5 separate regions of the Homo sapiens genome follow, and regions 1, 3, 4 and 5 are each linked to region 2. Evidence: fine-mapped expression QTL. A gene starts in region 2. Each other region holds a variant in brackets. All regions are shown on one strand. Distances are between the middles of the regions.

What was found. PIP is the estimated chance that this variant, and not a neighbour inherited with it, causes the effect.
Region 1: its variant is fine-mapped to the expression of RTN1 in whole blood (TOPMed, PIP above 0.99). The same link has a PIP of 0.9 or more in blood mononuclear cells.
Region 3: its variant is fine-mapped to the expression of RTN1 in whole blood (TOPMed, PIP above 0.99).
Region 4: its variant is fine-mapped to the expression of RTN1 in tibial artery (GTEx, PIP above 0.99). The same link has a PIP of 0.9 or more in aorta and coronary artery.
Region 5: its variant is fine-mapped to the expression of RTN1 in whole blood (INTERVAL, PIP 0.99).

What each region holds. Positions count from the first base shown.
Region 1 is chr14:59,847,569-59,852,675 of GRCh38, forward strand. The region is part of intron 1 of RTN1 (reticulon 1); the gene reads right to left. Among named protein-coding and RNA genes, the nearest start is that of RTN1, 21 kb to the right of the region's middle. The variant T/C (reference allele first, on the strand shown) is at 2,402.
Region 2 is chr14:59,868,388-59,873,494 of GRCh38, forward strand. RTN1 (reticulon 1) reads right to left here and starts at 2,389. Exons shown (of 9, transcript NM_021136.3): 1 at 2,003-2,389. The coding sequence starts at 2,243. RefSeq lists a silencer at 2,298-2,397.
Region 3 is chr14:59,902,247-59,907,353 of GRCh38, forward strand. No RefSeq gene overlaps it. Among named protein-coding and RNA genes, the nearest start is that of LRRC9, 15 kb to the right of the region's middle. The variant C/CA (reference allele first, on the strand shown) is at 2,491.
Region 4 is chr14:59,678,160-59,683,266 of GRCh38, forward strand. All of the region lies in intron 3 of RTN1 (reticulon 1), which reads right to left. Among named protein-coding and RNA genes, the nearest start is that of MIR5586, 34 kb to the left of the region's middle. The variant A/G (reference allele first, on the strand shown) is at 2,015.
Region 5 is chr14:59,773,353-59,778,459 of GRCh38, forward strand. All of the region lies in intron 1 of RTN1 (reticulon 1), which reads right to left. Among named protein-coding and RNA genes, the nearest start is that of RTN1, 95 kb to the right of the region's middle. The variant T/C (reference allele first, on the strand shown) is at 3,193.

The DNA of each region.
Region 1 (5,107 bases), 21 kb before region 2:
AAAATGTGTGTCATTTTCTAGTCATTCACAGGACTTGGTGCAAAACAATTATCTGCTTTCTATCATAAAATCATGGAATCCTGACAAAAGGAATACAAAGAACATTTGAAGTGATCAAGTTCGACTTCCCACTTAAAAAATATGCCTCCTTCTAAACCTCCCTGGTAAGTGATCATGAAGTCTCTGCTTGGACCCTTCCAGTGATGGAGAACGCCCTGCTTCATGCTACATGCTTTTTGGAATAGCTCTAACACCTGAACCCACAGCCTTTCCTGCATATGAAGAGACTGCAGAGGAAGCTGGCACAGATTGCCCAGCCCAGCAGTCAGGAAGTGGGCTCAGGGCCCGAATTTGTTTACAAATCCCACGTGAAGACTTTTAGCCAGGCCACTCTGCTGGAGACCTGAAATAATTTTTCTCACCAGGCCCAAACCTGCTTCTAAGCCCCACTTCATTAGAGCCTCTTTCATCTTAGCAACCACTTTCATCTTTCATCTGAGTAATGGCTCAGATTTTGAAGGCCTAGAGTTGAAGAGACCATAAAGTCTTCCTCTCCACAAACTAATGAAACATCAATTCACCATTATTATGCCTTTTATCTACAGAAAAGTAGGATCTAACTTGTAATGGTCACCACCTGAATGTAGCATCCCCTTTTTGAGGGCAGAGCATGCAGGTGAACTGCTAGGTGCTAAGAAGGAAGGGTTGTTAATGGCAATTGTGTCAAATTAATCTCAGCACAAACTACTGCATTTTATTATATAAATTCTCAAGATAATTGAATGCTATATCAAGGACATTCATCCAATTAATTTTTAAAATGTTAACAGAATTCCTTTATCATCAGATAGTTTTAATCATAACTGTCAAGAATTGTTTTATTTTTTAAGTTAGCATGCTAGAGTTTTAAAAGAAATTCAAAGTGATATAACATATGAAGGTTTTTGCTGATTATTCTTATAACTCATATAAATAGGAGCAAGAATTTACACTGTAATTGATTTAAGATTGGCCATATGAGTCATACATAAAAGATCCAAATCCTGCTTCTAAAGGCTTTGAATAGTCATTGATTCTGTGAACTTTGAAAGTTTTTGAAAATGTGCTATGATCCCAATATGGTATTAAGACTATTTTATGTAACCAAAGAAAAAAATACACCACTAAATTATAAAACTCTGGTGCTTATATGCTTGGCTGTCTGCAAGGAATTATAGAGACTATTGGAGACACAACCTCTACCTCAAGGGAATTTCTGCCTAGACAAGGAAATCAAACATTAATTCACTTGATACAGTACGAAGTCCATGTACACAAATCGTCACTGATGAAAGGATAGGAAGGACTCCAAATCCTTAGCTATCTATTTCAATAGTCCCCACCCCCCCGGGAAGAATATGTGGTTTACTTTCCTGAAAATGCACATTTGTTACCAGCTATAACTTGAACCCCAATATCTCATCCCCCTCATCAACTTAGCAGGAAGTTGCTGGAAGACTCCTTTTCTATATGTAGTTTATGGCCTTGGTTGGAAACAATAGAATTATGCAAATTAGTTGTCACCCCTACTTAGATTAACCAAATCATAGTTCAATACCCTGCTATATATTCAATAGGCCATTAGATCATAAAGCTAATCTAAGAAGGTATATAAAGTGTTTATCACAGTACCTGCCTGCCTAGCACTAGGTGCTAAATACATGTCAACTTCTTTCTCTTTTATCTATTTCCTCTCTTTTCCTTAACTACTCCCTGTTCCCCAAAGTATAGAGTACATTTTCATATTTGAGCATGGTAAAAGAAAAACCAATTAACTCCCTGATATTGCTATCTAAACACTGCATTTGCAAATCTCCAGGCTAGTCATGCATAAGAGAAAAAGTATATAAATACACCCCTATATCTGAGGGAAAACCCTCAGCTAAATTCTTCTCCATTTAGATAAAGTTAATATGAGTCTTTTGGAAAATCCCCATACTGAGGAAGGAACATTTCAGCCCACAGGCCTGACTCAGCCCACTGATTGATTTCATTCAGCTGGGGGTGAGAAAGCTTTGGGTGGCCCTGTACAGAACCCCAAGAATGGCTCCTACTCCTGAGCCCCAGTGGCCTGCTGGAGTCACCCCACTTATAGAAGTTTCTCCTGGTTTAAGGATCTAAGCAATCATAAACATGTGAATTACAATTTCTAAGGGAAGTAAAGCCAAGAACTCCCACTCTCACTTACTCCAGGTTCTAGAATTTAGCCAAGTCTTCTTAACTACTTCTCTTTTCCTCTTCTTCATAAATCCATTCCTTTTTTTACTTTTGCTTCCTCAAAGGGCTTCCCCCTCTCTGTGTACTTCTCTGTTAACTCTCTTTCCTGTTTTCTGAATTCCTCCACTTCCTCTTCCTTTTTGTC[T/C]ATTTGTGTCCATTCCAGGGGCCAAGCCTCTCCTTTCACCGCCACCTCTTCCCAGCCCCATTGCTCCTCTCTTCACCCTCACTTCTGCTTCTGGTGTCTCTTCTCCTGTCTCTTCAGTTGACACTCATTACTTTCTTCCTCTTTGCAAAGTAAAGCTGAATTCCATGTCCTGGCTTTGTTGTCTTGTAGGACACTTCTATTTTCCCTTATGTTATACAGGTGCTCCTCAACTTATAATGGGGTTACATCCTCATAAACCAGTCATAAATTAAAAATATCATATGTTGAAAACACAATGTATCTCAAACATTATAGCTTAGCCTCATCTATCTGAAATATGCTCAGAACATTTACATTAGTCTGCAGTTAGGAAAAATAATCTAACACAAAGCCTATTTTATAATAAAGTGTGGAAGACCTCATGTAATTTATTGAGTACTGTGCTGAAAGTGAAAGACAGAATGGTTGTATGGGTACACAAAGTACAGGTTCTACTGAATGCATATTGCTTTTGCACCATTGTAAAGTTAAAAATCTTAAGCTATTTTAAATTGAGGACCATATACATTTCGAAGACAGAAAGCCAGGGAGTATAATAAAGAGAGCATGAGACTCAGGTGTCAGAGATATGGCTTTGGCCTTGCTCAGATTCTACAAATGTAAAAATGGGGGTCACTCAATAAATGACGTCAGTGTTCCATCCATTCTAAACCACTTGAAGGAGGTTAGTGGTTATTATGCAAATAACAATAATTGATAGAGAATACAATAAAAATAGCAAATATTTATACAGTCCTTACTATGTCTCAAACACTGTTCCAAGCACTTCAAAGAAGCTCACTGAATCCTCAAACCATCACATGGGCACTAAGAATGTGCAAAGGGGGTGGGATCATGGGTAGGTTTTTTTCTCTTGCAAAAGTTTCTTTTATCACTGTTTTTACAATTTTAAAACAAGGCTGTGGAGTTGAGCATTTCCATTTCACTAAGAAAGTTGACTGAATTTTCAGTTTTATTTATATACAGTTGTCTACTGATTGTTTTCCCCCTGCAGTGCAGGGTCATTCATAGAAAAAACAAAAACAAAAAAACTCCAGGCTGTTGTGATCAACCTATGTACCAACTTTCCCTTTTCTAAACAGAAAATAATGCTTCCAAAGATTCATATTGACGTGATAATACATGGAGCATATCATTCAATATCTTTCAATAAACGTTGTGTGACATTTTCACACAAATGATCACAGTGGAAACATAATCATTATTGTTAGGAAACACAATCATTATGTGTTAAATAATACACTTAAAGGTTGACCTTGATGTCTTCTGTCTGGCAGAATGGCAGAGAATTTCATTTTAACAGATTGTTAAAGACTCCTTTTAGAAACCAATGCTCCTGGGAGTTATTATACCACATAGGGGTTAAATAAGCACAGAGCAGATTACTATACTTAAAAAATAAAAGCAACACAAAGAGCCTTAACAGCACATTCACTTTCAAAACAGGGGATGTCTGGGGCTTATTTCTCTAGAAAGTATATTACTTCTCTTCTTAAAAATATGATTTTTTTTTGTTCCTTAATGTTATTCATAAGAATAAACCAATTTGGCCAGGCGTGGTGGCTCACGCCTGTAATCCCAGCACTTTGGGAGGCCAAGGCGGACAGATCACAAGGTCAAAAGATCGAGACCATCCTCACCAACATGGTGAAACCCTGTCTTTACTAAATACAAAAAATTAGCTGGGTGTGGTGGCAAGCGCCTGTAGTCCCAGCTATTCGGGAGGCTGAGGCAAGGGAATCGCTTGAACCTGGGAGGTGGAGGTTGCAGTGAGCCAAGATTGTGCCACTGAACTCCAGCCTGGCAACAGAGCAAGACACAGTCTCAAAAAAAAAAAAAAAAAAGAATAAACCAATTCTTATTTCTGAGAATTGATATGCAAACATCCAAACTGTAAACAGAACTGCTCGGTTTTAAAATACTGTACAATTTCTAGAAAGCAGTATTAGGCATTTGCTCTTTCCAGACTTTTGGTAAAATAGGAACAGTTCTCTAACACCACGGATTCAATTTAAAATAAACTCACAGAAGTTCAATTCTGGTAATTCAAACATAATGGGCTGCAATTTACTCTTGTATTATCTATAATAAAAGGTTTGCTAAACAAATTGATAGTATAGTAAGTAGTGGCCACTCCAAATTTTCTACGTATAATGGCACATAGGGGCTACAATCTAGTTAGAGAAGTCAGTTGACTTATTTTGAAGCTGCATTTGCATGAGAAGCACTCTGATTTTACTTTGATGGTATGTTCATATATAAATAAAAGTAGAGCAGACTTTTTAAAATATCATATGCACACTTTACATAAAATTGAGAAAAAAACTGATTTTCCACATTGAAGAATACATATTTATTTAGGGTGGCATTAGATGACTGATGGAGATTTTTAGAGGGAGAATTAACATCATCTCCTAGTCCCACCCCCAAGCATTTCCTAATAATAATGGTAAAAGACTGTTGCCTAATCTACTTAAAATACCATTTGGTTCCAAAAACGTTGGCAGCGACTGAAGTGTACACAGACTCAGTAAATACACAAATGATGATGCATCACTTATCTGGGCAATGAAGATTCACATAGACCCATCATTAAGCCCTTCTCAGAGGCTGAGATTAGCTACTGTCTACTGGTAGAGCCATGAC
Region 2 (5,107 bases):
ATATTTGTTGCCTAGGATAGAAAACCCCAAACACATTCAATAAAGCAAGGTATTTCTATAATAATAATACTAAAAATGCAAAATGCATTGTTATTTACTACAGCCACCTTTCTGTAACAATGCACTGTACATTTTGAAATTGCTAAAAGAGTAAATTTTAAACGCTTTTACCACAAAAAAAAAGTACATGAGATGATGGATTTGTTAGCTAATCATTTGACAATGCAGACATATGTCAAAACATCACACTGTACCCCACAAATATATATTCTAAGCATTTCCTATATAATAACTTTTGTGGATATGTTACTGAGCATGGGGCACTTAGCTTCCTTTTTCTAGTTCACATAATCTTAGTGGCACTAATAGGAGGTGGGTAATGTTTCATAAAGAAACAATTTACTTTGATTACAGTGGATAAAGATTCTGAACTATGAGCAGTCTATCCTCAACAAAGAATGGTAAAGACAAAAACTACCTTCCTTTGTCTATTATCATTTGCCATCTTCTTTTGCAATTATAAAGAGTTTTGTTTTCACTTGGATGCAGAAGTTGAAAGAGAGACTGAGCAGCCATTCTTAGATTTAAATCCTCCCCCACTCCTAGGGATATAATAATTAATATATAACCTTTGGCGTTTGGCGTTGGGGCTTTTGAGTACTTTTCTTTCTTTCTTTTTCTTTTTTCTTATATAGGGTCTCCACTTTTTCTCTTCCTTTCAGGATATTGACAATTTTTATTCAACGCATTCTCCAAACCTCTTTTCCCCAGCTCAGATCTTCTGTACCAGGGCAGTTAATTACGATTACCTTAGACATTCCACATAACCCTTAAGAGAAGCTTACGAAAAGGGGTTTCTTTAAATCAACCACCAAGAGCACACACACCAGTCCCACTCCCCTTCCCCTCCTCTGGGAGCACCCCCCACCCCAGGCCTTCTAGCTCTACATTGCCAAAACTACACAACTCCCACTCCACCATAGCAAAGCTTTCTCAGGAAAGAGCACCACACAGCATCCCCTTTCCTCTCCCTGGAAACAGCGTTAACCAGGCCGGCAGCCTCAAAGCGCGCTTCCTGGATCCTTTGACCAGGATGCGCCAGGGGCCTGGGCTCCCGCTGGACACTGGCGCGCTCAGACTTTGAATAGGGCGTCAGGCGAAGAATGGCCAAACCCAGGGCAATTTCCGGGGTGGGGGGGGGGGGGCGCTTAGACTGCTGGTAAACTGTACCACGTCCACTCACCACCACCCAAGCCCTCCAACCCACAGCCAGGCCCGCCGCACTTAGGACTTGAAGTTTCAATGCTCCCTGCAAGGTGGGGCCATCCGGGCAGCGGCGAAATACAGGTTTTGGGCGGGGGCAGCCACAGCACCCAACCCTCTTGCAAAGCTGTGCCTCCCGAATTAGGGACAAACTCCCTGGGATTTGTTTTCTGCGGGAGAAAAGGCGGAGGGATGTGGGGGGAGTAAGGTGTGGTGGCGATTCGTGGAGGGCAAGGGTAAGGGGCAGTTACAGCCACATCTCTGCCCTGGACAGAGCCGGGTCCAGGGGCCGCGGGCCTGCCCGCCGCTCGGTTGTCAGCATCTCCTGTAGCCGGCGCGCACACTGCGCGCAAACACGCCCCCCAAAATCCCCACAACCTGTCAAACGGGCCCTACAGCTCGGAGCCTCCTGGCAGGAGGGAGAAACTTGTACCCAGACTCGCCAGCAGCCAGAATGCTGCTGTTTGCCTATGAGAACAATTTTTAAAGCGGAAATAATCATGATAATGAAATAAAAGGATCAAAAGCATCTTGACTTTTTCTGAGCCTTTGGGAAAAATAAAATTGTTGTTTTCTACCAGCCCGCGAATATTCCCAGTCGCCCGTGGCGACGCGGGGGTGGGGTCGGCGCTCAAGGCAGAAAGCGCGAGGCAGGTGCCCAGGAGAGCCGCGCAGAAGGGGACTGACTGGGGGGCCCTGGTCCCCGACGCCATTTGAGGGGCAGCGGCGCCCGCCTTACCTGTGGATGCAGTTTCCATGGCAACGGGCGACTGCCGGGCGGGGCCCGAGCCGGCTTCCCGCGACGCCGCTTCCCGGGCCCTGGCGCCCAACCCCGGGCTGGGCTCCCCAGCCTGCGGCGCCGGCGTGGCCCCTTTCGGCGTCACCGCTTCGTTCTCCCCCTCCCCCCGGTGCCTGAGCCACTGGGACCCGGGGCCGGCCAGCGGCAGCAGCTCGTCCTGCGGATCCCCCGGCGCGGCCATGGCTGGCGGTCCCCCGGCGCGGCGACGGCGGCTTGGCTGGGCAGAGGCTCGGTGGCTGCGCGGGCGCTCCCTGCTGCTGTCCCCGGAGGGACTCGGCGCTCAGGGAAGCTGCGGTGTCTCAGCGTCGCCGCCGCCTCTGCTGCAACTCCGCCGAGCCGCTGCCTGCCGCTCTTCCCGCTTCAGCTCCTCCTTCTCCCCCCTCCTCTTCCTCCGGCCCCGCCGCGGCCGCTGCCTGCGCTCCTCCTCCTACTCCACTCGCTGCTGCCGCCGCTGCTTCGCTATTCCCAATCCTGTTATTACGCAGGTGAAAATGGCCTGCTTGGTCCGGGTCCTCCTGGGCACGTCAGCCCCCAACCTGCAAATGGCAGGCCCCGGTTAGGGGATGTGCCAAATCCACTCGAATCTTCCTCTCGTTTGGGGAGGAAAAAAAAGGAAGAACCAGCAAGTAGCAGCAGCCACCAGCAGCGTCGCCTTCCCAACTGAGAAAGTTAAGCCCCGACTGGTGTCCTGGGTCCCGAGGCAAAGAGGGAAAGCTAGAGAACTCAGGGCCACAGTTCTGAGAGTGACCAGTATGAGTTGTGGAGGGGACACAGGTCTGAACGGGGAAGGGGTGGAGATGGGTTCTGATGGCAGATGGAGACCAGGGAAGCTGCAACCCCGCGGTTAAATCCTGCGTTTCCAGAATGGGCCTGAAAATAGTGGAGTAAAGAAATGAGTTATCAGGACAGCCTCCAAAAAAAGCTTAACAGATCTCACCCTGACCAGCCCTGAGGGCAAACAGGGTGTCAATAGGCAAGGACAAAAGCTGTACATTTGCTTTCAGAAACACTGAGCCAAGGCCATCCTAATCATAAGCTGTCTGTGCAGTCCGTTGTATTTCAGAATTTGGACATTCCATGAAGCTTGCATCTTTTTCTTTACAGTTCACTGTGATAAAATGGAAGATAGTCAGCAAATAAACCCAAACTCAGAGGAGGAAAGTGACTTGCCTTATCATATGTTGTGCCCATACGAAGACCCATCTTTTCAAATGTCTTGTGTTTTATTGGTTCCCAAGTTGTTTATATAATAAAATAATGTGCCTTTAAAAACTAAGATTCACCACAACACACAGGGTGAAGGAATAGGTTTTTCTGCTGTTTCTTCTCTAGGAAAGGTGGGCGCAGACGGTACCGCACACACTGTGAGACTGTGGGACTCTTGGCCACCATGCGCATCTTGAGGATTTCATACCTGTCCATTGGTATATTCAAAGGCCAACTTCAGGACCATTCAGGTGCTCCTCAATAATGCTAAAATGAAAAAGCCCAGAGTCTGCCTAATCTTTTGTTCTGCTAGTGCACTAATGTTCAAAAGATGACAATAAATTAGAGAAAAATCATTCACTAAACAATAAATATGGCCTCCTGAAGCCAGATATCCCTGGAAATCTGATGGTCACCAAAATTTTACATTTTTGACATACTCAAAATTATGTCTCATGATGGAAATATTCACTATCTAGATTGTGGTTATAGCTTCACAGGTGCAAACATATGTCAAAACTTATTGTTTACTGTAAATATGAACAATTTAATGTGTTGTCAGTTATAACTCAATAAATCTATAAAAATAATCTCATCCAAAAACAACAAAATAATTGGTTATCATGAATCATAATGATTTTTAAACATCTTTCCATGGGAAAACAAGAGTGTATTTAAAAAACCGTTAAGTTGAAAAGCTTATTCCACTGCTGTATTTCCATGGAGCTTAATCCTGTCTTGTAATTAGAGGGCACTTGTAAGTTTTTTCAAATCTATTACTTAGTATTCCCTAAAGCATCAGAAATACTAGATGGGAATTTCTCATGGTTTTATTACTGATAACAAGACAAGAACATAGACAATTCTAATGATATAACCTTAAAGTGGTTATTGATGAATACTAATATTTGAGAATTGCTATGCAAAGGAGTTACATACAAAATAATATGAAGTATATTCTTTTGTTTCTCTGAGAAACATGAATGAAAGTCATCATTAAAAAACTGGGAGACCTAAGCAAGCCTCTGTGTTTCCTTATGATTAATAGATAGGAAGTTTGGGGATATGATTCTAATTATTTGTCAATTTCTTTCATACTAATCAATACTCTCATTGAGAATGTGTGAAGGAAATAGCCAGTTAAATCTATTTAGAGTGTAGTTGTTAAAGGAAATTGAACATTATTGACAGTTCCATTTTGATAAAGTATTCTATTTTACACTGCTGAAAAGAGATGAGCACAAGATTTCAGTGTTAGCAATTTTCATTACTAACTTTCCTTATTAGACTCCACCTTTGGATGTATAAAAATTATCTATTTGGGGGAAGAAATTTTCAGGTTTATGCTATGACTTGAAATGATTCATGTTTATTAATATTATTTATTTTGCACCGCTCTGAACTGACAAAGCTTGACTAATTTGAAGATTTATGGGCAAAACACACAGTCGGCAATGGGATTCTGGGGCTTACATAGTTGCTCTAAGTTACGAATTACTCTAAAATGCTTTTCAGACACAGAGAAAATAGGATTGTCACTTTTAAAAGGTTCTTAGCAAGAAGAGTTGAGACAAAAGAACTGTCACGTTTTGTTTTCAGCTTTTGTTTTTTGGAAAAGAAGTTTTGTTCATCATTTGAAAAGAAGAAATGAGGAGCATTTATTTAGCACTAGCTTCTTAACTTAGTCCAAACCATATATCATGGGGAAACACGGTGTGGGGACATGCAGGAAGAGCGCCACAAGTAACAAGCTTTAACCAAGATGAAATTCTTTCCAGCCTCAATATTAAAGTTACCTAACATCTCTACAACCCAGGTTCCTCAACTGTAACCTGGAGA
Region 3 (5,107 bases), 34 kb after region 2:
AGCAAAGCAATAAGAATTTTTTTTTTAAGTCTGAGTTCCTGACACCTTGCTAACCCAGACCACTACCTCCCAACTTTGTATAAGATATAAATAAACTTCTATCTTTATAAAGTCATGATTATTTCTGATTTTCTGTCACCAAATTAAAACCAAATATTAATTTAAATTCTAAATGAAAAAATTAAAAACAATCACCTAGAACTGCATACTTGAATATGGTAGCCACTATTCACATGTGTCTTTAGCACTTCAAATGTGGCTAGACTGAATTTAGGTGTGTTGTAAGTATAAAATATACACTGTATTTTGAGGGCTTAGTATGAAAAAAGACAAAAATAGCTAATTAATAGCTTTTTACATTTATTATGTGTTGAAATAATATTGTCTTATGTTGGGTCAAAATATTTGTTAAAATTAATCTCATCTATCTTTACTTTTATTGTGGCTAATAAAACATCTAGAATTACATGTAATAGTTCACATTTTATTTCTATTGAACATTGATCTAGAATATAAGCTTTTTAATATAGATATCAAGTCAGTAGTTGTCTTCACTGAAGATCAAAAAGGACAAAGAAGGCAGACACTATAGCATTTCAGATTTAGGTCAGGCATGGGGTGAATGTCATGCCAGCAGGTATTTTTTAAACAAGAATAGAAGATTGTTAATATATCTTCCAAAGAAAGTGTATCTTGGATGATTTTAACTGTAATTCTGTTTTAAGACAAAAATGAAATTAATGTACAATGTCTCCAAAACACAATTTTAAAACTATGATAACTAATACAAAACCCACTATATTAAGTAAAATTCTTATATGTATATATAAATACACATATACAAATGCAAATACATATGATACATTCTATTATACATATATAAAATAAGCTTTTATTGTATTTACTATTGTTTTCAAGGGCATTAATGGCATTATTTTTGATGTCATCGGTCTGATTTAAGAAGGTTATCTAAAGTTATTTGGAACTTAGTAGTCTGTTTGGCTAAGTTCCTCTTGTATTTGCACAATTAAATTCTATTTCTCAATGGCAGAATTTGCAGGTTGGCTCATTCTGGCATAGCTAGCAAAATGATCATTCTGGCATAGCTAGCAAAATGGGGCTGACCACACTAATAATTGTTTCAAAGCTCTCTATATTTAATAACAGTGATGCACCTCTTTCCCAAGACCTCTTGTCAAGTGCACACATATACAAATGAGCTATGGTTTGTAAAGCAACTGTTTCTATGTAGGCTGGCTCTAACTTCTACAGATACTGTCATTTTTATATACATATGACTAAGAAATGGGTGTGCAGTAAAGTATTGCAAACTTTTACTTTTTCCAAATGGAAAGGGAATTCTTTATTTTGACTAATGGAATATTCTGGTTTTTGGAAAGTCAATATGCATTTCAAGTTTCAACATTTGGATTATATAAAAATACAGTTAACTCAAGTACAGAGTCAGGCTTTAGAAAGCAAATAATAACCCCCTCCCCTCCTTTTTTCCCTCCAAGCTTGAAAGCAACTGGGAATAAGACATGAGGCAGATAAATTGAGATTTTTAAAAATCAGCTTTATTACTGAAAAAGCCATTGGGAAAATATGACTGTAAATCTGTAGAGAAAAGGGCTCACTAACATTCTCTACTCCCACTAGAACTTGCAACAACCCACAGGAGAGAAAGTCCGGGTTTGTGCAGGAGATTCACTCAGGCAAAATTGCTCCCTCCCACTACTAGTTCGGGGCACAAACAGATGAAAACAGAAGAAAATCCCCAGTATTTTTAGTCTTATAGTAGATTAGCTTCTCCAAGTCAAGAAATGTGGGCCAATGAAGTCTCACATTCACTCTGTTAATTTCTCAAATATTTTATAGTAAAATGCTACAGATAGAAAAAGGATGAGGATAAATCTCTACAAAGTCAAAGCAGTACTGGTTTAGGGGTCTGTGGGGTAATACCCTCCCTACACATTGTGATTTAAATAAGGTTGGCTACAGTGGACATCTGTTGTTTTTGCCTTCGTAGCACTCCACATTTCTGGTGAGAACACCTTAGTTCTCCTTCATGAAATTCACCCTCTTCCTCTTATAGTACATAGGAGTCTGATGGCACTGACCCCACCCCTCAGCCCAAGCCAATCAGAGCATTCTATTGAGTATCTGACCCACGTTAGACCAATCAGCCTGAATCCTAGAACTTGTTTTGAAACTACTGGGAAAAGGGCATCCTCTTTCCTTTAGGGTTTAAAAAAAGGCAGAATGTAATCCTGGAACTACCTGCAGATGTTCCTTTCCAAAAATAAAGCCAAAAAATAAATCAGAATGATGGAAACCTTCTGAGTCCCAATATTTCACTTGAATAAATCCTAGATCTACAGTTTTGTCCAAAGCCAATCCTACCCCTGGAAATTAACCTGTTGCTTATGAAAGCCAATGGATTTTTTAAAAATGTAAGCTTTTTTGAATTGGGTTTTCTTCACTTAACTT[C/CA]AAAAAATCTAGATTAATAAATAAATTCTCTCTCTCTCTCTGTCTCTCCCTCTCTCTCTCACACACACACACACCCCTCATTCACAGATTTGTCACACAGCTGGAAATTGTGCCATAAGAGGACTCCTAGAAGTTACACATTGTCAATTAGGACATCTTAACTGTAAAGTCATTTACCAGCTTCGGGGGAAAAAAGAACAGTGGGAAAATGAACATTTTTATCAAGCATACTTGTATTTTTCTAAGTAAAGTTAAAGGATAAAGAGGCTAATTTCTTCTTCATTGAATCAGCTTCTAGTTAAAGGTTGATAATTAGCCAGGATATTTCAAATAGGACTGATTACTAAACGCATCTGGGGAATTTTTAAAACAGAAGCTTATAAACCTCTCTGTAAATCTACTAAATGATATTCTCTGGGTTATATTCTTAGAAACTTAAACAAATTTCTACAAGTTACAAGTGATTAAATAATCAGACAGGTTTGCAAAATGTTGGTCTAAACTGAGCTGATGATAATGCACCCTGATAGTATCCATTCACTTACTAATTCATTAAGGCATTACTTTTAGGTTTCTATTTTGCTAAATGCCACCGAAATGCAAGTATGAATAACACGTGGCCCTGACTCATTAAAGAGCTCACAGCCTGGTTCAAGAGACTGACCCTATGGGCTCTATGGAAGCATGAGTCAAGATCTGAGTGGACAAGTTGGGAAGGGAAAAAGGCTCACCCTGCTGGGATATATTGAGAGAAAGTTTTGAAAAAGAGGAGACAGTTGAAAACTAGTTATAGAGATAGGCTGGTGGAAAGGGAAAAAGAAAAGCATTGAGGCCTAGGGACTAGTGGATATGAAAGGATAGTGTGGTGAAAAGCCTTGGAATGCTCTGAAAATGATGAGTTTGGTGTGAATGAAGGAATTTCTGCAAAGTGGGATGTGGGAGATGAGGAAGTAAGAGGTAATTAGGCCTTTGACCTATGAAATGCTCAGAATTTGGGTTTTCTTGTGTGCCTCCTATAGTTTGTCTCCTCCTAATCTCATGTCAAAATTTGATCCTCAGTGTTGGAGGTGGGGCCTAATGTGAAGTGTTTGGGTCATGGGGTAGATCTTTCATGAATAGATTAATGCCTTCCCTGCATGGGGAAGGTAAGTGAGTTCTCTATTAGTTCCCATGAGAGCTGGTTGTTAAAAAAGAGCCTAGAACCCCCACGCTCCTTCTTGCTTCTCTCTCACCACATGGTCTCTGCACATGCCAGCTCCCCTGTGCTTTACACCATAAGCAGCCTGAGGCCCTCACCAAGAGTAGATGCAGACACCATGCTTCTCACACAGCCTGCAGAACCATGAGCCAAATAAACTTCTTTTCTTTATAAATTACCCAGCCTCAGGTATTGTTTTACAGCAACACTAAACAGACTAAAACACTGTCTCCACTGGTTATGTATCATCCACTGATCAACCCAGGTTACTCTCTTACTTTCCGCATGAAGTCACATTCCTTTCCAGCTTAAATTCCAAGGCCATTATTGACCTCCACATGGATACATCCTCAATACTTCTCCCCCTTTTTTACTTTGCTGCATACATTTGGTTAAATCCCATCCTTGGTTAAATCTAACTCTCCCAGTCCTCTGTACTAGGCATACACACAGCTAAAGGTGGATGGAGAAAAATCATAACCATACTGACTGATCTCACCTTACATTCCTGATCGTTAAACTCACTAGAGAGTAATGCAGCCAGGCAATCATATTCTATTTACCTAGTCCATTCACTCTCCCATTTTCCTGGACCATTAAATTATACTTTTTCTTCTGTCATGAAACCTCCACCTCCCTTCATATTCTTACTCTCAGATGACCTTGCTTTCTACTTCACTGAGAAAACTGAGGCCACAAGAGGGCTTCTACACACCACCACCACCACCACATATATCTACCTATCTGCTTCTGTGCCCATTGACTGCCCTCTCTCCTGCCCAAGCTCTGAGATAAAGCTAACCCTGTGACCTGTGCACACCCATCTTCTATCAATTCCTCAAGGACATTGCTCCAACAATTCTCCCTCTATCATGAATAATTTTTGTTCCCTATTGGATCACTCCCATTAGCATAAAAGCATCTTCTTATTCTTCCATATTAAAAAATACTCCCATGACCCTACTCCTCTCTAGCATCTGCCCCATTTCTCTTCCTCCTTTAGAGCAAATCTCCTTGAAAGAGCTGCCTATAATACCCACAGTCTCCGATTCATCTTCTTCCATTCTTCTTGAATCCCCTCTATAGAAACTGTTCTTTTCAGCAGCATCAGTAACTTCAATTCTTAGTCCTCATCTTCCTTGACCTATTATCACTCTATTTTCTTCATTTGGCTTCTAGAACACCACCCTTTCCTGGATTTTATCTCACCTTTCTGGCTAGGACTCAGTCTTCGATGGTTCCTTATCATCTCTCTGACCTTTAAATATTCAAGTTCCCCAGAGTTCAGTCTTCAACCTCTTCTATTTTCTACCCACACTAATTCTTTTGGCAATTTCGTTCAGTCTTATTAATCTTTATATTAATGACCCTAAATATATATTTCCAGCCTGGAACTCTCCCATGAACTCCAGACTCCTA
Region 4 (5,107 bases), 190 kb before region 2:
TCTGGGGTCTGGAGGATTTGGAAGGCTGCCAAAGCTTAGGCAGTGGTGGTAGGGGTGCGTGGGGAATGTGAAAAGGGGTCTTTTCTCCAAAGTTTTATTTAAGGGTTGAATGCTAATGCGAAAATGGCCTAGCTCAATCATTTTAGCTTCTCTGGCTTGGCCTTCCTAACAGCAAGAAAGAAGCCATCAATGAGCTACAAAACTTCATTTTTCCTACAGGCTGGAAGTGGTCTCTTTTTAATATATGTTCTGGATTCCACTGTCTGAGAGAAGAAAATTGATTTAAACATTTAGGTATCTACAGACAACTCTTACTGACTCAGGGGCCAGCGCACTCAGATTGCAGATTGCAGCATCCCTGTTTCTCTACCTTGTGCCTCATCCTTTGTGAATTCTGAAAGCTGGTTGCTTTTTCCCACATACTGAGGTCCAGCGTGGGCCACAGCACATGTTGGGACCTCAAGAGCTGAAGGTTCCTTGCTGGGCTCCCAGGCACAGAGGTACAGGCCTCCCTTCTCACTACTGCCCCTTCCTCAACCTCCACTGTCCCCATTGTCCTTAGGCTCACTGGTGTGGAAGAGACTTTAACAGACTGACATGCTGATCTTCAGGTTTCTCAAAGCGTGACCACAGACCACCTGCTTCAGAAGCACTGGGGGAGTTGGTTAAAAATGCAGCTTCCTGGGCCTCACCCCAGGCTTACTTAGTCAGAATGGGAAGCTGAGAATGTACATTTTTAACAGGCTATCCAGGTAATTCTTATGCACATATAAGTTTAAGGACCATAGATACAGGTGCAGGGTCTTAGTATCTAACTCTGTTGGGTTCTTGAGTTCAACTGTGATTTCAAAAAGCAAGGGATAGCATCTGAATCCTCTTGGCTCCTGGCAGAGTGACAGATTGGATTGTGAGGGATGACAGTGTCTGGAAAAGACTGGGAACAGGTAGGAATCTACTAGAAAAAGGCCAAGATAATCCCTAACTTGACATTTTGTATTGAGTATTATCATGTGTAATTGTTAGGGTGGCTTGGGTATGAATTAGAGAAGTATTCTCAATTTCCCTCTTAAGCATCAGAAGTTGCACAGGTGCTCTGAAATGAAACAATAGTACAGCCCTCTCTGCTAAATTGAGTTATCTATTAAACAAACAGAGCCACCAATGATAACCCATACACCCTTTGACTTAGGTTTCATCTTTACCATTGTATCAATGTTTGTAAAATAAGGCTAGAGACTGGAGCTCTAACTTTTCTCAATCCAGACTCTACCTCTCTCCAGCTAAGACCATGAGGTCTTTATTTCTTCTCTATGCCTTAATTTCCCCAACTGTGGGATGAATCTGCTTATAGTACTAGTCATAGGTACCTTTTAATGGTTATTAAAAAGGGTTGAACAGTAAAACAGCAGAGTACAAAACAGGTGTTATATTAGTAATCACTCTTAATAATTTCATTGTTAATCATTGTCACTGCAAAAATTAACAGTGACCTGACCTATGAGAAGAAGCTGAACTGTTTAGCTCAAATGAAGTCTGGGGATGACTTCTGGATTTAAGTTATTCACACTCAACCTATCACTTATTGCCACAGACACTTCAAAGTTCACAGTTCTCTGAAATATCATAATTTTCCAGAGCTTCCATACAGACTTGCATATAATTTTCCAGAGCTTCCATACAGAACAATTTGAACCTTGCAAATTGTTCTCATTTTATCTTAGGTCTAACAGGTTGGGGGTTGGGGTTTGTTTTTCTTTTTTAAAAAAATAGAACTTCTTAAAAACCAGGTCAGACTTATCAACAGAATCTAAATAAGGCTTGGTGTGTTGTGCAACCTCTACAACATAGCAACAATGAAATTTCACTGCAACTACTGCCCTCATACCCAATAGCATTTACAATACCTCTGACAAAGTGTGTCTATTTCCATGGTACCTGTTGCCATGGGAGCTGAGCAGTGCTCCTCCTAGAACAATCATGTTAGTAACATAGCTCTTAGCTATTGCCTTCTAAG[A/G]GCTTTGCTCTGGGGAAAAAATGGGATACTTTGTTTTTGAAAGAAGTCATAAACCTCCTCCAAAATAGACAATTGTTGCTTAATAGTACTAAAAAGGAAAGAGCAATCCCTCTTTCCCTCCATACCAGTTAGAGAAGCATTTCTTTCCTTCTGGAGAAGTATTTCCAAGTGAAACCATGCAAAATATAGGGAAGTGTGTTTTGAATTCCATTTTAAAGTTATTTTGCATAAAAGTTAAATAAAAAAGGAGATAGTTGTCATTGTTTACAATAAGTCTATCTTTACTAATTTGAGCTAATCAGTGAATTCACTGAATAAAATACAAGGTTAGTGCCAATTACCAATTTCCCAATGAACCCAAATACAAGGCTTTATAGCATGCTGTATTATTTAGTGTGTCCAGGCATTGCCACATAAAGCTGATGGAAGTATACATTTGTATCATCTTTCTAAAACACAATTTGGCAATAGGAGCCTTAAAATGTTCATATGTTTTAGTATGGTAATTCTATTTCCAGAAATCTATCTCAAGAAAATAATTTGAAATGAACACAAAGCCTTATAAACAAAGATACTCAATGGAGTGGTATTTAAAGTTTTTTAAAGCTAAAATCTAAATGTTGAACAATAGAGAATGTGTAACTAAGTAACTGAAAAGTGATAGGCATCTTTATGCTGTCATGAAAAACCATATTTATGAAGAGTTTTTAATAACTTGGGAAAATGTTTATCATATCAAGTTAAAAAAAGAAGTATATGAATTTATACAGCCAACATAACAAGTATACAAAAATATGTACAGACATAATAATAGAATATATGTTGAAATTTTGACAGTGGTGGTTGAATTATGGATTACAGTTATTTTGTCTTTTATAAGTTTCTATATTAATAGTATGTGTGTGTCTATCTCTATTTCCCATTTTCTCTTTTTTCTCTGCTTCTCTTTTCATCTAAGTGCTCATAAAACTACAAATCTATTTTATTATTTCCATATTTATTAAATACATCTTAGATTTCCACATGTACAAATCCAACAAAAACTTACCAAGCATTATTTGCTATGAACAATTCTTAATTTAGACATATGAACATATATTTCCTCTAACAAAAACAAGTCAGTTACTTTGCTTTTAATTTACTTGGTTCTTGATTCATATGTTTTATTCCATGAGTAACTGTCTCTCAATAGAAAATCATTCTGAATCTTAAAAAATGGTAATTTGAAAATGCCAAAATGTTCTCCATACTATTTTTTCAACCCTTTTTTCTAGCTCCAATAATGATTATCAATGATGAGTGTCATATCAATTCCATCCCCAAACCACACACTGCAGTAGGCACTGGGAAATAATGAATCTGGGTCACTAATACTCTGTATTCTCCACTGGGCTCTCTCACTCATGCTCATAGTTACCACCAGACATGGGTACCACCAGCTCTGAATCTCCAGCCTGGACCTAGCTCTTGAGTTCCAGGTTCAGGTCACTAACTGCTTACTAAATAAATCTTCCTGAATGTCTCCTAGGCATCTATGAACTCATTTTCCCTGTATCACCTTCTCAGATCGTGTTCCACTAAGCAGCCTTCTTTTTCATCCAGCTAATCACATCAGAACACAAGGATCATCCCAGATTCCTGTTTCTGTCTCACTGTTCCCTTCCCCTACCCTCAAACCTTGATTTCTACTTTCCAAATCTCTCCCAAATTCATCCTCTCAGCTGCTACAGCTTTAGTTTATAGTTTAGACCCTCGTCACTGCTCACTAGATTTTTTTAGTGATCTTCTAACTATCCTTTTGGTTACCAATCTGTCCTTCTCATGGAGAAATCTTTCTAAACATAAATCTGATCATGGTGCTACCCTTTAAGAAGCTAGAAGATCCAGCATGTGCTTTTTAATGTGGCTCCTTCCCATCTCCCCATCTTCATCTCCCATGGCTTTGCCACTGACATACTTTCCAGAAAAATGGAATTATCCTAATTCCCTGAAATCACATGCTATTTCACCCTTTGAGGACTTTACACACATTCTTTTCTTCAACTGAAATTCTCTCACCTGCTCCATATTTCAAGACTTAGCTCAAGGTTCAACTCCATTTGTCTTCCTTTCCTTATGGCATTACTATTTCTGGTACATCTTCTCATGATTATTTTATTTATTTGAACAAGATTTATTACACATCCAATGTTATACCATGCATTGTGCTGGCTGCTGGGTAGATAGACTACTTCTGCCCCCACAGAAGGATTCCACTTGCCTTTCCTGCTGTTGAAGTTTATACCTATGTCTCCTTTGAATTGCTAGAGGGCAGGAACTGACTCATGGTCATCTTTGTATCTCCCAGCTTCTGGCGAAAGTAGATGCCTAATAAATGTGTATTGAACAAATGGAAACAAACACAAGTGTTTCTGTTTACATTAACACAACAATAAAACTTAACAAGTATAAAAGTTACTCATAATTGCCAATGAGTAATGTTTCACACTTCATAAAACAGAAACAATTGTCTCTAGGGAACAAAATCAAATGTATACTTACAGAGCACATGGTTAAGCATTGCTAAAAAAGGCTTTGAGAATATGATTTGATAATTTATGAGTTTCCTCATAATTCTATGATTAAAGTGACTAATCATAGGGAATATAGTTAGTCCCACTGAACTCCACTCCAGAAACTGTGGTTCCTAATACGCATGCACTAATTTGCCTAATAGAAATCTTACTTATGAGGTTATTCAGCATTTAAGAGTGCAGGCAAAAGAAAGGAGAAGCAATTTGATTTGTACCTAGGGGAGTGACATTTTGGTTCTCGGTTAATATTTAAAAGTCAACTGACACAAGATATTTGGTGACATTCACTATGGTTGATGTATGAATCTGCCAATCCCATTTCTCCTTACTAACGCATTATTTTGGTCCTATACTGAAGCTTATTCCAGACTCAACCTCATGTTCTCTTTCTATTGGAAATCACTAGTTGGCATCAACTCTTTGCTTTTATATAGCTGAAAAATACGTTAATTAATCCATTTAAAGTTGTATGAAGGTAGTATTAATTTTGTGTATTAACACAATGACTTATTTTCTGATC
Region 5 (5,107 bases), 95 kb before region 2:
GATAGTACTATGTCATGTAATTCACTATTGTGGTTCCAAGAATAAATGAAGAAGTATTATATGTCTATTACATATCTTCTGATGACTTTAAAAAGTTAGTTTCTGATAAATAAATCAGCACAAAAAAGACAGAACTTATTTTTAACCACAGCAATATTTATTTACAGATGACAAATATTCTAATTTCCATTAAGCCTTTAAGTATTTTCTGAAAGCTCAATTTTCCATAATTGAGAATCAGATGCAGTCTTTCCATCAAGTTAAGAATCTCCTAAAGACAGTTTCCCCACCTGAGTTACCAACTCATAACTCTATATCTGAGATTTAATGGGGGAAAGAGCATGATGTTAAAAGTGTATGGGATACACTGCCTCTTTTCAATTATTCAAGAGCTGATTTATTTTGGCTTTTTTAAAGCTTACTGTCTTTCTTCTACCCTGGTTTCTATCATCTCATTAATTATCCTAAACAAGAGAAGATGAAAGAAAAAGACATGAGACAGAAAAAGAAATGAATATTCAACCCATCCTCTTCATTTTTGACCCTTTCAGAAAGGGAAACATAGTGACTAAAAGGAATATTTTAGATTATCTGGACATTTCATTCATATATGCCTTCTTTTCTCTCTTTCATGTGATTAGAGTTTATTATTTATCCATTATTGAAAAATTAGGATAAAACTGCATCCACGTTTGTGAAATAGAATGCCAGATTTACAAATTTGGGCAAGTATCCACATTATGGTAAAGAGTGTCTGTAGTGGACTGACAGTTCCACTTACATGAAAGAGATGCTTTAAGTAGCAGAATTAAAACACAGTGCAACTGCTGAGTTAATGATGGCACAGCTCTTTATTTTTCTATGGCAAAGAATGTGAATCTCTTACTAAACTGACTGTTTAACATGCTGAGTTTTTGTCCCCAAAACATTCTGCATTCCATTTGTAAGAACATGGACTCGACTCTGAATTAAAGTGTAAAAATGATTTATAATCTATACAACACTATAGATTATTATAATTTGGCTCTGAAGGGTTGGTTTCTTTCAACTTCTGCAGTCTCAGTTGTGTTGCCTGCTGTTCTAGCTGTGTCAACACGGGCAAAATTGAGAGCTGAAGTAATTAGGCAAATAATGCAGGCCAAAAATATGTCTGAAAGCTACTTGGCAATTTCACTCCACACTGATCAAAATCAGTTCAAAATAGTCCAGTTCTTTAATTTGCTTTCTCCTCCCTAAAAGCCTTAAATAAAAACACATGAAACCAATGAAATGTAAGTAATTTTCATTTGGAATCTCATATTTATATGTGTATTCTTAATGTTCCTTTCTAAATAAACCATTAACAGTGTGGATAAATCTAGTCCCAATAAGTCACCACTACTACAGTTGAGACTGAGGAGTGGTATGGTAAAATCAGCCAACAGCCAACTCACAACATCTCCCCAAGGAGACCACATGATCAGAACTCACTCTTCTGAACAATTTCTTGATGATTAAAGTACCGTCTTTTTCTCATTAAGTGAAGAGGCAAAAACATCCAAGTAACCACTTCTATAATGCTTGACTGAATTAACATTTCAGGGGAAAACTGTTGCAATAACAGACAGAAACCTCCTTTACATCTATGGCAGAGATGGCTTCCTAGCCACCTATTCATGCCACTCTGCCACATTATAAGGTATTACCGGGATGTAGTTGTCCAGCTAGGGAGTACATTTCCCAGCTCTCTTCTTAGATGGGGCCATGAAAACTGCTCTTGTAAAGGCGATAAGTTCCATCTCTAGACTGAGTTAAGAGGGGAGTATCTCAGACGTTTCTCATCTTCTGTCTACTGGCTGAATGTCACTGTCCCATAAAACCTTGAAAATCTCATATTAGAGATGGTACTAGAACCCAAACATGAAAGGACCCTGGGTCCCTGAATCACCTTTTGAGGCCAGCTGCCTGCTAATTAGGAACACAAATTCTAGACTTTATGTGAGAGTAAGAAATAAGCCTCTATTCTTTTTGAGGAATTATACATTTTTGACCTTTTTTTTTGTAGGAGCTAGAATTACTATAGCTTAGACAAATCCTATCCCAGTATTTTGAACACAATGCCTCTTTATTGGAAGCTTTCTTCACTGCATAATGGTGGTGATAGTTAATACTTATAAACTGCGTACCCTGTGTCATACACCGTCTAAATCCTCTACAAGTATCAGCTCACTCAATCCTTACAACAACCCCATGAGGCAGGTACTATTAATTATTCCCATTTAACAGATGAGAAAATTGAGGCATAGTGAGAGTAAGATCACATAGTAACAGAAATTGAACTGAAAAGCAAGATGATACATCTCCAGACCAAAAATAAAATACTCTGCACTCTGTATTTTATAAGTACATCTTCTATTCCATGTACATTTTAATACATTCTGCAGATAAGCAATAACAATTGTGGACTGGTCATCTGATTTGTTAAAAAGATCACTCTTTCATACAGCAGAAAGTTGTCTCTAATAACTGAAATAAAGAAGAGAAGCCATTTGAAGTCTAAACTGTTCCTCTCACAACCAGAAATAAGAAGTTTTAAATTAAGGGCAGCAGAGATCAATCCGTATAAATAATATCTAATAATTTAACAATGAAATAAAGATGATTCAATTAATGTCATATTATAATAAAGTTTAGGGCATTTCTAGCACTTTCCTAGTCATTTTCTATCACTTTTTACTCTGTAGTCAAAAGCCTATTGTATCTTTGAGAATAAATACCTTGTGCCAACATTATGATGTTGCTGAGCCATTGTCTTCTCTCCTTCTTCCTGACAAGGTCCATTGCTATGGGCCTTGAATGTGTCCCCCAAAGTTCATGTGTTGGAAACTGAAGTCCCAATGCATCAATGTTGGGAGCTGGGGCCTAGTAAGAGGTGGATTAGGTCATGAGGGCCATGCCTTCATGAAGGATTAATGTTATAGTGGAAGTGGGTTAGTTATTGTGATAGTGGGCTTGCTGTAAGAGCAACTTTGGCCCTATTTTGCTCTCTTGCTCTCTCATGCTCTTGTCCTTCTGCCTTCCACCATGCCATGATGCAGTAAAGCCTTCACCAAATGCAGGCCTCATCCTTGGACTTCCCAGCCTCTACAACTATAGAAAATAAATTTTTCTCTTTATAGGTTACCCAACCTGTGGCATTCTATTATAGCAACA[T/C]GAAATGGGCTAAGACATTCAAAAATAGGAACTTTGTTCATCTTGAAAGTGTTTGGTGAGGAGATTTTTAGCCCTTCTCTCTATCTCATTTGTTCTCAACCAGAAGAGGTTTAGCCTTCCTCCGCTGTGTGGGGCCTTCCCCTTACCCTCTCTGATGCTCCTTTGGAGCTTCATGTCACTCCTTTCCTTCATCCAGTAGGAGGCTCTGCTGGGGACCAGATGAAAAATTTATTTCAGGAGGAGGCGTAAAAAACCTATTTTACCACAAGTCCAGGCTGTGCTTTCCAACTCAGTTTACCAGAAATAAAGCAACAATGTAGGTTTCAATCTGACTGGATTGGCTCAGAACTCAGAGGGACATGAGTGAGATTAATTGGTACTCTGAAACTCCCATAGATATTCTAAATTATTTATTGAGTTACAGCTCTTAAACTAAAAATAATCCACCTACCATCACTGAAAGGCTACAACAGGCAAGCGTTCATTACGGAGTGACATGTCCCTCACCTAGGAAGACTGAACATGTCAGCATGAGCAAATGTTGTCCTTCAGGCATGGAAATCTCAGTAATAAAATTCTGGCTGTACTGCAGAAGAGTAAGAGACTCTACCTTGTGCTGTCTTTGGTCCGATACCGTGTTATTGGAGAAGAGCAAATGGTGCACACCATGATCATAGGCATGATGATTCATCATCTTCTCTTGGTTTAGAAACATATTCTAAAATCCCTGGGAGTCTGGTTGCTTTTGTGTTTGACTGTTTGTCTTTCTTCTTTACCCACAGACTTTGTACCCCTCAACACTTCCTCTTCTCCCAATAATAGTTACTCATCAATTGGAAATAGACCAGATTATATTTGCTAAAGCTGCAACAAGGCTACACACATACCATTTTAGCAGTGTATCCTTTTAAGTGTGTGCTGATCATGAGTGGTACCTACTGCTGGCCCCTTCTTCCCTTTGGCCATTGACTTGGTGGCACTCCTTCCAAACAATCTCTTTCTGGAGTAACATGGAAGTTTATGATGGTTTCTTTGGTTCAGCTAAAGGAAGTTTTAATGCTGGGCCCTGAATCCCAGCCCCTTTGCCCCTTTTTTCAGGAGTTCCTTAGGACCAAAGGGATGTCCCTCCTTTCTTGGGGAAAGTGTGGATGTTTCATGAGATTGACACTGTATTTCCAGCAAAATATAATAACCTTTTCCCCTCTTTTTCTTTCTAGGTCTTTGGAAATCAAAAACGGAAGCAAGTCAAGACAAAACAACAACAACAACAACAACAACAAAAAAAAAAAACAAAACAACAAAACACACACACACACACACACAAAACACCCTAATATTTACTCTGTGTCTCTCCTGTGCCAAGTCAGGGTGGCATGATGCAGCCTCTACGTGTCTCTTTAGCTTCTTTTTGTACCACATTCACTCTTGTTCCCTGCATCCAAAGCACACTGTGTTGCTTTAAGTTCCCTGAATGTGCTGTTTTCTAATGAGCTTTTGCATGTGCTGTCCCTGCTTAAAAAAATGCTTTCCTTCCCCTTCCTCAGTACCTCCGTCTTATCCTCCAGATCTTTGCTCACTCATCACCTCCTGAAGGAAGGCTTCCTTGACTTCTTTGACCAGGTCATTACCTCTATCATGGCTTCTCTTGGCACCACATGGCTTTCAATCACAGTTGTAATTTTATATTTATTTTTGTGATTGTTTTAATTTCTCTCTAACTATATTGTATGCTTCATGACAGCAGGGACCATGTATGCTTTTTCTCATCATGGCATATTGTAAGCTATGTGTTGAATTAATGAATGGCTTTTGTTAATTCCCACAAAGTCCTGTGCTATAGATATTTTAAACTCTGTTTTCTAAGATAAAGAAGCACTATTTGCTGGGCTAAATGATTTGTCCAAGTCGCAGTAAG